Linked DNA regions of Homo sapiens: region 2 is linked to region 1. The links come from fine-mapping of genetic effects on gene expression. A gene starts in region 1. The other region holds a variant in brackets. All regions are shown on one strand. Distances are from middle to middle.

What was found. PIP is the estimated chance that this variant, and not a neighbour inherited with it, causes the effect.
Region 2: its variant is the best candidate, but not a certain one, in a credible set for the expression of LINC01203 in spinal cord (GTEx, PIP 0.61).

The regions. Positions count from the first base shown.
Region 1 is chrX:13,332,543-13,337,937 of GRCh38, forward strand. It overlaps LINC01203 (long intergenic non-protein coding RNA 1203), which reads left to right and starts at 2,699. Exons shown (of 7, transcript NR_045260.1): 1 at 2,699-2,770; 2 at 2,940-3,003; 3 at 3,117-3,155; 4 at 3,837-3,918; 5 at 5,353-5,395.
Region 2 is chrX:13,365,542-13,370,936 of GRCh38, forward strand. No RefSeq gene overlaps it. Among named protein-coding and RNA genes, the nearest start is that of LINC01203, 33 kb to the left of the region's middle. The variant A/G (reference allele first, on the strand shown) is at 2,913.

The sequences.
Region 1 (5,395 bases):
TGTGGTAAGTAATGATGTTCACTTTAACCCCATCACAGACCATTTGATCTTCATATATCTAGGTAAGTGATGTCTGTTTACGTGAACTGTTTATCATGTGCTTTTATAACAGTGATTTTTGTAAGTAATGACAGTATTTCTAGTTCTAGTGACCATGTTATATTGTTTTTAATTTAGAGAAAACTTATGGTTTACGCTGTGAGTATCAAATGATTTGCGTGTACACAGATAACAACGTGGTGTGCTTCATAGTAGTAACTGTGGTATCCTTGCAGATAGGTAGTCAAGAAAAAATGGTGTGTCCTTCAAGGTTGTAGACCTTGGGAATACTGCAAAATTCCATGTAGATTTATGTCTTCTGCAATGATGACAGCCAACAAGTTATTTGCAGGGTTCTGGTGGAAGAGTTGTGTCCACAGACACATTTGTCATAATGTGGTTTCAGGTTCCTCTCAAGGGGTCATGGGAAACCTCATCATGATCAACAATGGGACATTGCTGGTATCCAAGCCAATTATGATGTGGGCCTTAAACACCCTACAAAAATGTGATCTACAGAAATGTAGGTAACTGTAGATGGTTTTCCTAATTTTTGTGTTGCCATATTTTGTGCAGGTATTTAGTTAAGGAATTATATTTTCCCAACCAACGCAGGTAAGCATCAGTCATTATTTTAGAGTTTAGTTATAATGTGTTTAGTCTTATAGTGAGGGAGGGATATGCAGGTATCCAGGTAAGTTTTCCTACTGTTTCCCACCACGTTATTGACCATGAGACTTCAACATCATCAAGAGATGATGGTGCCACTACATTGTTGACATTGAAGTCATGGCAAATCCAAGTAGTGTTGAAGGTTCCCTGCTGATGGAAGTGCCCAGAATTATTTGTGTCTTGTCTTTTTTTATGTAAAACAAATTGTTTCCTTAAACACACTTGAGCAATGTGTTTTTTAGTTTTCTGTAATGAGCTCACAATCAAGCTTAACAATAGTCATTAATGGAACCGTGCTGTAACCTGCTAATTGAGAAAGTGTGTTTCCCACAATCAGACCATTAGATCTTTATATTTCCATGTAAGTGAGGATGGTGTCCTTAACACTTGTCTACCATGTATTCCTGCAGGTATCCTGTTAAGTTCTTTCCTAGTATACAGGTAGAAGATTATGTGATATTAACACATTAGCAACCTTCCTATTTTCAGATATGTAGGTGATTAATGATTTTTTTGAGACTCTTCTTGTAACCTTGTGTTTGTCATGCATGCAGTTAAGAAATTACTTTTTCCCTAACATTACTAGTAAGAGTGAGATTTTACTGTGTTCTTGTTTAGACATAATGTGTATTTATCAATTGTAGTGATATATGGATATGCGAGTATCCAGGTAATTTATCATATTGTCCATCACTGTAATGCTGAGATTTTTGTAGGTATCACTTCAAGAGAGGAAAGTTTCTCTTACGAGTGTTTTCCCTTGGCATTATGCAAGCATCCAGTTACCTTTGATAGGCCCTGAAATGATGAAAGAGACGAAGGGAATTTGCAGGTGTACAGGTAGAATGAGACATTTAGGAAACACATTTTCAACAGTATATTTTTTAGGTTCATTTGAAGAGGTCACAGTGAGCCTATCAGTAATAGTTAACAGGGGTCATTGCTCGTATGGATGTGCATGATAATGTGGGCCTAAAACACAGCCCAGCCCATCTGATCTTCCCTTATATAGGTAAGTGGTGGTGTCCCTAACACTTCTGTTACTATGATTTTGTTGTAGCTGTTCAAGTAAGAAATGATAGAGCTCTTACCAATTTAAAAAAACATTATTTTTCTCACTTTTTATATTTTAGAATAACTTTATGATTAACCTCTGAGTTTTGAGTGATAGTGCCTATCCTGGTTATTGGTGTTTCTTACCACAGCAGTAACCAGGGGATTTTTACAGGTGTCCTGTCAAGAAATGACCGTCTTACCTGACAGTGGTATTGATCTTGCATTATTACAAGTATCCAGGTAGAGTTTATGTGTTCTGTAATGATGGAGTGACGAAGGTTATTTTCAGATGTCTTGGTGGAAATGTTTGTGTCCTTTAACACATATTTCACAATGTGTATTTCAGGTTTCTGTAGTGAGACCCTGATAAACCTAACAATGGTTGGTATGGCAGACATTTCTGGTATGCAGGCAAGTGATGATGTGTTCTTTAACCACATCATAGACCATCAGATCTTCTTATATCTTTTTTTTTTTTTTTTTTGACAGAGTCTCGCTTTGTCACCCAGGCTGGAGTGCAGTGGGGTGATCTCGGCTCACTGCAGCCTCCACCTCCCAGGTTCAAGCGATTCTCGTGCCTCTGCATCCTGAATAGCTGGGATTACAGGTGTGCACCACCACATCCTGCTGATTTTTGTATTTTGAGAGATGGGGTTTTGGCACGTTGGCCAAGCTGGTCTCGAACTCCTGGCTTCAAGCAGTCCACCCACCTTGGCCTCCCAAAGTGCTGGAATTACAGGCGTGCACCACCACGCCCGGCCAGATCTTCATATATCTAAGTAAGTGTTATACATTTACCTAAACTTTTTTACTGTGTGATTTTTTTCCATAGGTACTCAAGTAAGAAATGATAGTCTTTACTAACTACAGCAACCATGTTATCCTGCTGTTTTATATTTTAGAGAAAATTTATGTTTAACTTTGTGATTGGCGAGCTATTTGCTATCCAAGGAATTAACCATGGAGTTGCATGTCATAGTAGCAATTGTGGGTTTGTTTGCAGGTAAGTAGTAGAGAGAAAATGGTATCTGTAACAGTGCTATAGACCTTGCAGTACTGCAAGATTCCAGGTATACTTGATGGTTCTTGGAATGATGGTAGTGAATAAGCTTAATTGTGGGGTTCAAGGAAAAAAGCTGTGTCTACACACATTTGTCATAATGTGTTTTTAGGATCCTGTCAAGAAGACATGGTAAACCTCATCATGATCAAGAATGAGACTTTGCTTGCATCCAGGTAAGTAATGACGTGGGCCTTAAGCAAGCACTCAGAAAACAATCTGATCATCAGATCTATAATTAAGTGTGGATGGTGCTTCTAACTTTTGTGTTACCATGGTTTTTTTGCAGGCATTCAGTTAAGAAATGATGTTTTCCCAACCAAGGCTAGTAAGCATTAGCCCTTATTATTTTACAGTTTAGATATAATGTGTAGTATCTAACCAAGCTGGGCATAGTTGCATGTGCCTATAGTATGAGCTACTCTGGAGGCTGAGGCGGGAGGATCACTTGAGCCCAGGAGGTTGAGGCTGAAGTGAGCTGTGATCACACCACTGCACTCCAACTTGGGTAACAGGACAAAACCCTGTCTCTTAAAAAAATAAAAGAGATATAATGTGTGTTTAACATTAGTCTCTAAGGAGGGCTATGCCGGTATCCAGGTGAGTTATCCTACTCTTCCACATTATAGTATGAACAATGAGATTTCTAAGTCAAGCGATGATGGTATCTCTAACATTAGTGTTGATCTCAAAGTTCTACTAAGATCGAGGTAGTGTTGGTGGTTCCTCTAATGAGGAAAATGACTGATACAAGTTGCAGGTGCCCCGTCCTTTTTTGCAGGTAAAACAGCGTGTTTCATTAAACACATTCATCATTGAATGTGTTTCTTCAGGTACCCATAGTCATGAAATCATAGTGAACCTAACAGTGGTCATTTATGTGTTCTTGGTAGTAACCAGGTCAGTGATAAATTGGGTCTTACCACACTACAGACCACCTGTTCTTCAGATTTTTAGGTAAGCAAGTATGGTCCCTCTAACACAGTGTTACTGTGTTTGTCTTTTTCAGGCTTCCCAAAAGTTGTTTGATAGTATACAGGCATGAGATGGTGTGACTCTAACTCATTAGATGCCTTCGTCTTTTCAGTCATGTAAGTAATGAATGGTGTTTTCAAGGCCGTTACATAAACCTTGTTTATGGCATGTATGCAGTTTAAAAATTAAATTATCCCTACTACTAACAGGAACCATGAGTTTTTAATGTATTTTTCTTTTGAGATAATGTGTATTTAACACTTGTACTGATAGACATATATGCAGGTATCTTGCTATTTTATCATATTGCTCATCACCACATTATTGGCCATGGGATTTTTGGAGGTATCTGTCAAAGAGTAGACGGTGCCTCTTCCTATAGTTTGACTTTGTAGTTCTGCCCTTATCTAGCTTTTGTGGGCCCCAAAAGATTCAAGAAACCAAGGGAATTTGTAGCTGTACAAGTAGAATTAGACTAGTACCAAACCCATTTCCCACAATGTGTTTTCCAGGGTGTGTCAAGAGATCACGGTGAGCCTATCTACGGTAATTAATATGTGATATTGCTGGTTTTGAGGTAAATGATGATGGAGAGACCTAAACCAGAGCACAGATTACCTGATCTTCATATAGATACAAGTGATGGTTGTGTCCCTAACACTTGATGTTACCATGATTTCTTTTTAAATGTTCAGATAGGAAATGATAGAGTCTTTACCAATTCTCAAAACCACGAATTTTCCCTCAGCCTCCCGAGTAGCTGGGACTACAGGCACGCGCCACCATGCCCAGCTAAATTTTTGTATTTTAGTAGAGAAGGGGTTTCACCGTGTTGACCAGGATGGTCTCAATCTCCTGAACTCGTGATCCACCCGCCTCGGCCTCCCAAAGTGCTGGGATTACAGGCGTGAGCCACCACACCCGGCCTCCTATTTTCTTTATTGAAAACCTGAGACCAATTGAAAAGCAATAAAACAAGCGTTCGAGAGCTTCTTTAAATCAATACAAGAGCTTCTTTAAGTGGAAATATATATCCAGTTGGTCAGACTCTCCATCATACACTTTGCTTTTTGTTGAAATTCAAAATAAAACTTTCTTTAAGGAAGCCTGGATCTCAGTCTTAAACCCCTAGCTATAAATGTCTCCAACAAAGGGGAAGGGAAGCAACCTAGTCTGAATTTTAATTCAGCCAAATGGGAAACCCATGACCTTCCATTCTCCTCTGATTTTACCATTCTTCTAGGATCCATTTCACAGCTATTGTTCATCTGGGTATAGAATCACTGCTTTGTATTTCAACACCATTGAAAATATGTCAGACCAAGACCCGTATAGTATAATTCTGCTGGAAAATAGAAGTTAAAGGGGTTAACCTGTAGTAGTAGATTAAGATAGTTATGGAAAAAAGGTTAAAGAAATGAGGGTTTAAAAAGCTTTCAACAAGTTGCTGTCACCTCTGGGCCATCCACATAGTAGGTACTCAATATGTGTTGAAGTAAATGAATGCTTCTTTATGGATTGGCTCATTCAACAACCATTCTTTCTTTCAGCATGTGATGGAAAGAAAGCTATCAACTTCATTCCTGAGACTTC
Region 2 (5,395 bases), 33 kb after region 1:
CTCCAGGGATTGAGAAATCAGTATCTCTCCAGGCTGGGATCCCCATCAGTTTCCAGGTGGCTGCTTCCTGAGTTTTAGAACAGGCATTGTCAACCTTGGCCGCACATTGGACTCACCTGAGGAACTTTAAAATATGCATGACCTGGTCCCACCCCAGAGTTCCTAATTTAATTGGTCTGAGGTATGGCCTAGGCCTCAGGATTTGAAAAAGCTCCCCAGGTAATACTGATGGCCAGCCAAGAATGAGAAGCACTGTTTTAGAGCAGGGGTCACCAGCCTGTTTTTGCAAATAAAGTTGTATTGAAACACAGCCACCATTTGGTTACATACTGCCTATGGTGGCGCTCATGCTACCACGGAAGAGTTCAGTAGTTACAACGGAGATCTTATAACCTGAAAAACAAAAAATATTTACTATCTGCTTCTTTACAGAAAATGTTTGCTGAGCCTGTTTTAAAGGGAAGCTTCAGGAGGACTTTCAGTGTCATATGAAAAATAGTTTACAAGGATTTTTGCTCAAGGTAGTGGCAGAATTCTCATAAGGGACTCTCACAGGGACAAAATATTCAAAGTACACAAACATTCAGGTACCACGAAGGTAAATGAGCATTCATAGCCTTTCTTGTTTTCCCCTCGCCTTACAAGGCACATGCTGTTTTCAAGTTTTTGTTGAACAAGACGAGGGGTAGCAATAGGGAAGTCAGGAGAAAGGAAAGGCTAGGCTGGTTTATGTTAGGAAAAGCAGGGAACTGCTCTTAGGAAGAAACAATCCTGAAAAGAAAAAGCTACAAGTCAGAGGAGAGGCAGGGAGGAGTGAGCTTCAGGGAAGAGTTTGGGAAAGTTTCTAGAGATGGGAGACTAGAGAGCTGTCACCCTGTGTTGAGTGGCACTGTAGAGGTTAATGGTTCTAGTGATTTTTAGAAATGTGGCTGTGTGATATGAATCATAATCCCCTTAGTCTAAGAGATTTCTGTAAAGTTGTATACATTTTCCATACTTTTTTAGATGTCAGATTAGTCTTTTTGCAGTGAAACTCTGTACTATGATTGGCCACAATGGAAGCTGGAAATATTGGGCTACAGGATGAATACGCCTTAAAACTACCAATTATTGACAGCATCATAATAGTTGGAATAGCACATCTAAGAGTTAGCAGCAGGAAAATAAAAAAGGAATGAGATGGGAATCTGAAAGCTTACAAATGGCAGCGTGATATTGCTGGGTCAGTTTCCCCAACTCTAAGCTCTAAGTATCTCTGATAGGAACCTGTGGAGAGGAGCGTCTGCTCTCCTCTTGGTCACTGGAGCCCAAGATCGCAATGTTCACACTTCCATTTATTGTGAGGAATAGAACACCAGCACTTAAGTGATTGTCCAAACCAACATCACCAAAGCAACAGCTTTGCATAACACCCTTGCCAATACTCAGAATCAAGGGCCTTAAAAAATGAAGGAAAGTAACTGGAATGAATGCAAATACTTGCACCTAGAGAAGCCTTTCCGGAATTATTAGCAAACACTCCACTCATTCCCTGACTTGGCAATTCTCCCAAAAAGAGAGGAGGGGTTTAGGTACCTGCATTCCTCAAGACCCTGTATGGCCTGGTGAACTTGGAGGTGATCTAGGACCAAGGTAAATCATGTGGCTGGGCAGCCTGAGAACAAAGATCAAATCAGAAGTCAGAGAGGCAGCAAGCAAATCTGGGCTGTTTTACGGTATCCCAGCATCCTGGACTGACAACATGAGCTGGTATTTATCTCTCCAATTCAGATATCAGTAGCCAGACATTGCCATTGATTCATCATCACATTCTTCTTCCCGTAGGGTTGGACTCTGAGAACATCTAACTCAAAAGAGCACTGCCGTAAAATACTGTAGGAAATGTACATGCATTGAGTGCATTTCAAAAGAACAATCCTTCAGTTTCGACTATTTTTCTATTTGTTTGTAATTGCTTATCTATGTACATGCTTATCATATTGTGTCATAAATATGGAAAGCCTTCATTGCCCAAGCGTAATTTGTCTCTGCAAGAGTCCATTTAAAATTAAACCACCTGTAACATTCCCAGCGGGTCGGCAAAGAAAAACAGTACCACATCACATAGGACCCAGCAACTAGGAAGAGAAATATCAGTTAGGACAGAATACTCAAGAGCAAAAGAGGCATATGACAACATGAATGCAACAACCATAAGCACACTTAAGGAGACTCAAGAGTACAAAGAAAAAAGTTTCTGGAGTTAGAAAGAAAAATTAAAGTGAAGAAGAGGCTAACATTTTTGGTACTTGAATTAGAGGTATGGGTGAGCAATATAAAAAAAATTAATCCACCCAAAATAGAAACCAAATGTCACAGTAAGTACTGGAAAAAAAGATTAGGATTTTATTCTAAAAAGAAAACCAATTTGTTTTAAAAAGTAGGAAAATACATTTATATTTTCTTATTTGCGAAAAATTCAGGATATAATTGCCATATCCTAACTCTTAAAATGAACAACAATGACGTAAGTGTTGATTTTTCTTTTGACACAGTTGTTCTGGCAAAACCGTATGATAGTTTTGTGCACCCTGTCTTCACAGTTGACTTTCGCGCACAGTCATAAGTAAGGTCATCTTTACAAAAACGTTTGAGGTTTCACCAGTTTCCCCACAGACCTCTCCGAAGCCTTTGATATTCAAATTGTTTTCTGACTCCCATCTTCTGACATCATCTTTGTTAAGTTTCTTTTTTTCCCAAATTAACCTTACCAGATTCTTATTTTGGCTTTGCCAATGATTTGAGCCATTCTCCAACATCATCAGCTTTGTGAACTCCTTCATGTTAGCAACATTTGTGATTTCAGTTTAACAACTGTTTTCATTGCATCATTAGATTTTACAGCAGCCACATTCAATGGCACAGTTACTTAC[A/G]AAGCTCCTTTGTTAGACTATGAACTCTTTAATGGAGAAGCTGTGACTTATTTATCTTCTACCACCAATGATTGCCATAAAGTAGATACTGATTAGTATTAGCTGAATTTAACGGCTTTTCATTTAAGGTCTTCATGTTTAAATATTGACTAGCATAGATGCTCACACAATATTGATTGAGGACAAACTTTATTAAGTGGTTAATTCCTTAGCATATTTTTAAAATGTTATGTTGACTTTTGCTTCCCTGTCTCTTCTGTGAGTATCTAGATAAGTATTTGGACCATTAGCATGCACCAATATTGTTTACTTAACAGCCTCTTTAATGGAGGAGCTGTGACTTATTCATCTTCTACCTCCAATGACTGCCGTCAAGTAGGTATCAATTAACAGTATTGCACTGAATGTCTTTTCGTTTACGATCTTCATCTTTCAATATTTCCAGGCCAACCAGAAACACATCATAAGCAGCACATGCCTCAATTAAATCATTGGCAAGATTAGAAAGACAGCCTAGAAGTAACTTTGGGCACACACAGAGTATTTCACAAATGTTATTTGAATTGAAAAATGGATCTTCAAACAAGACAGAAAAGGTTTTATTTTACCTATAATTTTGCATGGAAGTCTTGGGTGACCAGAGTAATTCTCGGTTTCTTTCCTTCCTTCCCTCTCTCCCTCCCTCCCTTCCTCCCTTCCTTCCTGCCTTCCTTCCTTCCTTCCTTCTCCCTTTCCCCCCTTCCCCCTTATTTTCTTCTTTATTTCTTTCACTCTTTCAGCATAAAGAGGTTAGGTCAGCATTAGCATCCTGAAGGACCAAGATAATTGATTGCAAGGGCCAATGTCCACGATAATAGAGAGTCAAGATGACCCCCAAAGAAAGGAAATTTGCTAATCTGGGTGTTAGTTGCTCTCCATCCAATAGAGAGTCTTTAATATGCTCATTCATCTCTCCAGTCTTCAGGAGCATTTCCAGCCATCTGGCTCGCTTGCTGACCCTTGCCCTTTCAGGTAGCAGCCATAAATGCAAAGCTCTCAAATAGGAAAGTCTGTTGGTCTCATTTAGAAGGCCTACTCTAGGCAAGGTTAGGAAGATGGGAGATAATGATCCTTTGCCATCTCCCTAGAATTTAAATACACAAATTAAAAAGCACATTAACTCTTTGTTTAAAAAGAAAAACAAAATGTCATCAAAGGCAGGCTTGATTCAAATGCAGTTTAGGCTAATGAAGGAGCTGTGTCCTTTCACTATTTGTTCTGGGATCTTTTCAATCAGTTAGCATTGGCAAAGCTTCTGAACAAAGACAGTAATTACCAGATAAAAATTGCCTTCAGTGCATTGTCTAACTGTGTTCAGTTTGGCATGAATGGATTTATGATCCTTTCATTCCAATAGGAACTACCAGTCCGCCTTTCACTTCAAATAGCCTATTCATCTCAGCATAAAAACAGCTAAAATATACTAGCAGAATATGCTGCCTCTGCAACCCAAGCTGCACACAGCAGGAGTCAGCTTCTTCCAACAGGCACAAATATAGCTGGCTTTGAAAAACTATAAAACAAAGGCTCTAGAAAACTCTTGCATAATTTTTTAAAAACAGCAATTATTTGGTTCCAATCCCTTTTACTACTCTGTATCTTTTATCCAATATTAAATTAATTCCATTGTGTATAAAATGGTCAAAACCACAAATTACAGCAGGGAATTTATGCTTAAATAATGATCTGTGGTTGCTATTCAGATACATAGATTAATACTTTCTATTCCTTAGGGGGAAATGGCACAGAGAGGTGTTTTTGTTTTGTTTTGCTTTGTTTTTAATAGATAAGGCATAAAGAATCACTTTATCAGAAATAAATTAATTGGTGGCAATTTACTTGACTCCCAACATCCATCTGCAGTGCATTATCTCTTCTACCCTCTATCCTGTGTGTGAGGTAAATGTCTATGTACACACAAACCATGTATTACAAGCATAGAGTAGTACTCATAAAGGAAGTTTCTATAGAAAATTAAGACCTTCATGCAGAGCTTTGTGCTGCAGTAATATAATACAGAGCATGCTAAAATGTTGACCTGAGTCTGTCTTCAAGTATAGTGGTTTCGAGATCAGTTCCAATCACAACTTTCTCATTGGTCAGCATCACATGATGTCTTCATGGTGGTATGAGTTTTGCAATTGATCCCGTTGGCTTTGGTTATCAACAGTGTTTCATTGGATGTATAAGAACTGCTCATGTTGGTTTGTCCCAAATGCATCCTAGAAATGATAACTATTTAACTAACACAAGTATATAACTGTAACAGAGTGGAGTCCTGAAAAAGTACTCTCCAAAATTTGACAGACTTGTTTCTATGCCTTGACGTGTTACTAAGTCTACATATGAGTAACTCTCTATCTCTGTGAACTTCAGAATGCTATTCTTAAAAACTAGAGGAGGGAGTTGGTCCAGAATATTCCTTTTGTCTCAAAGTATTTCAT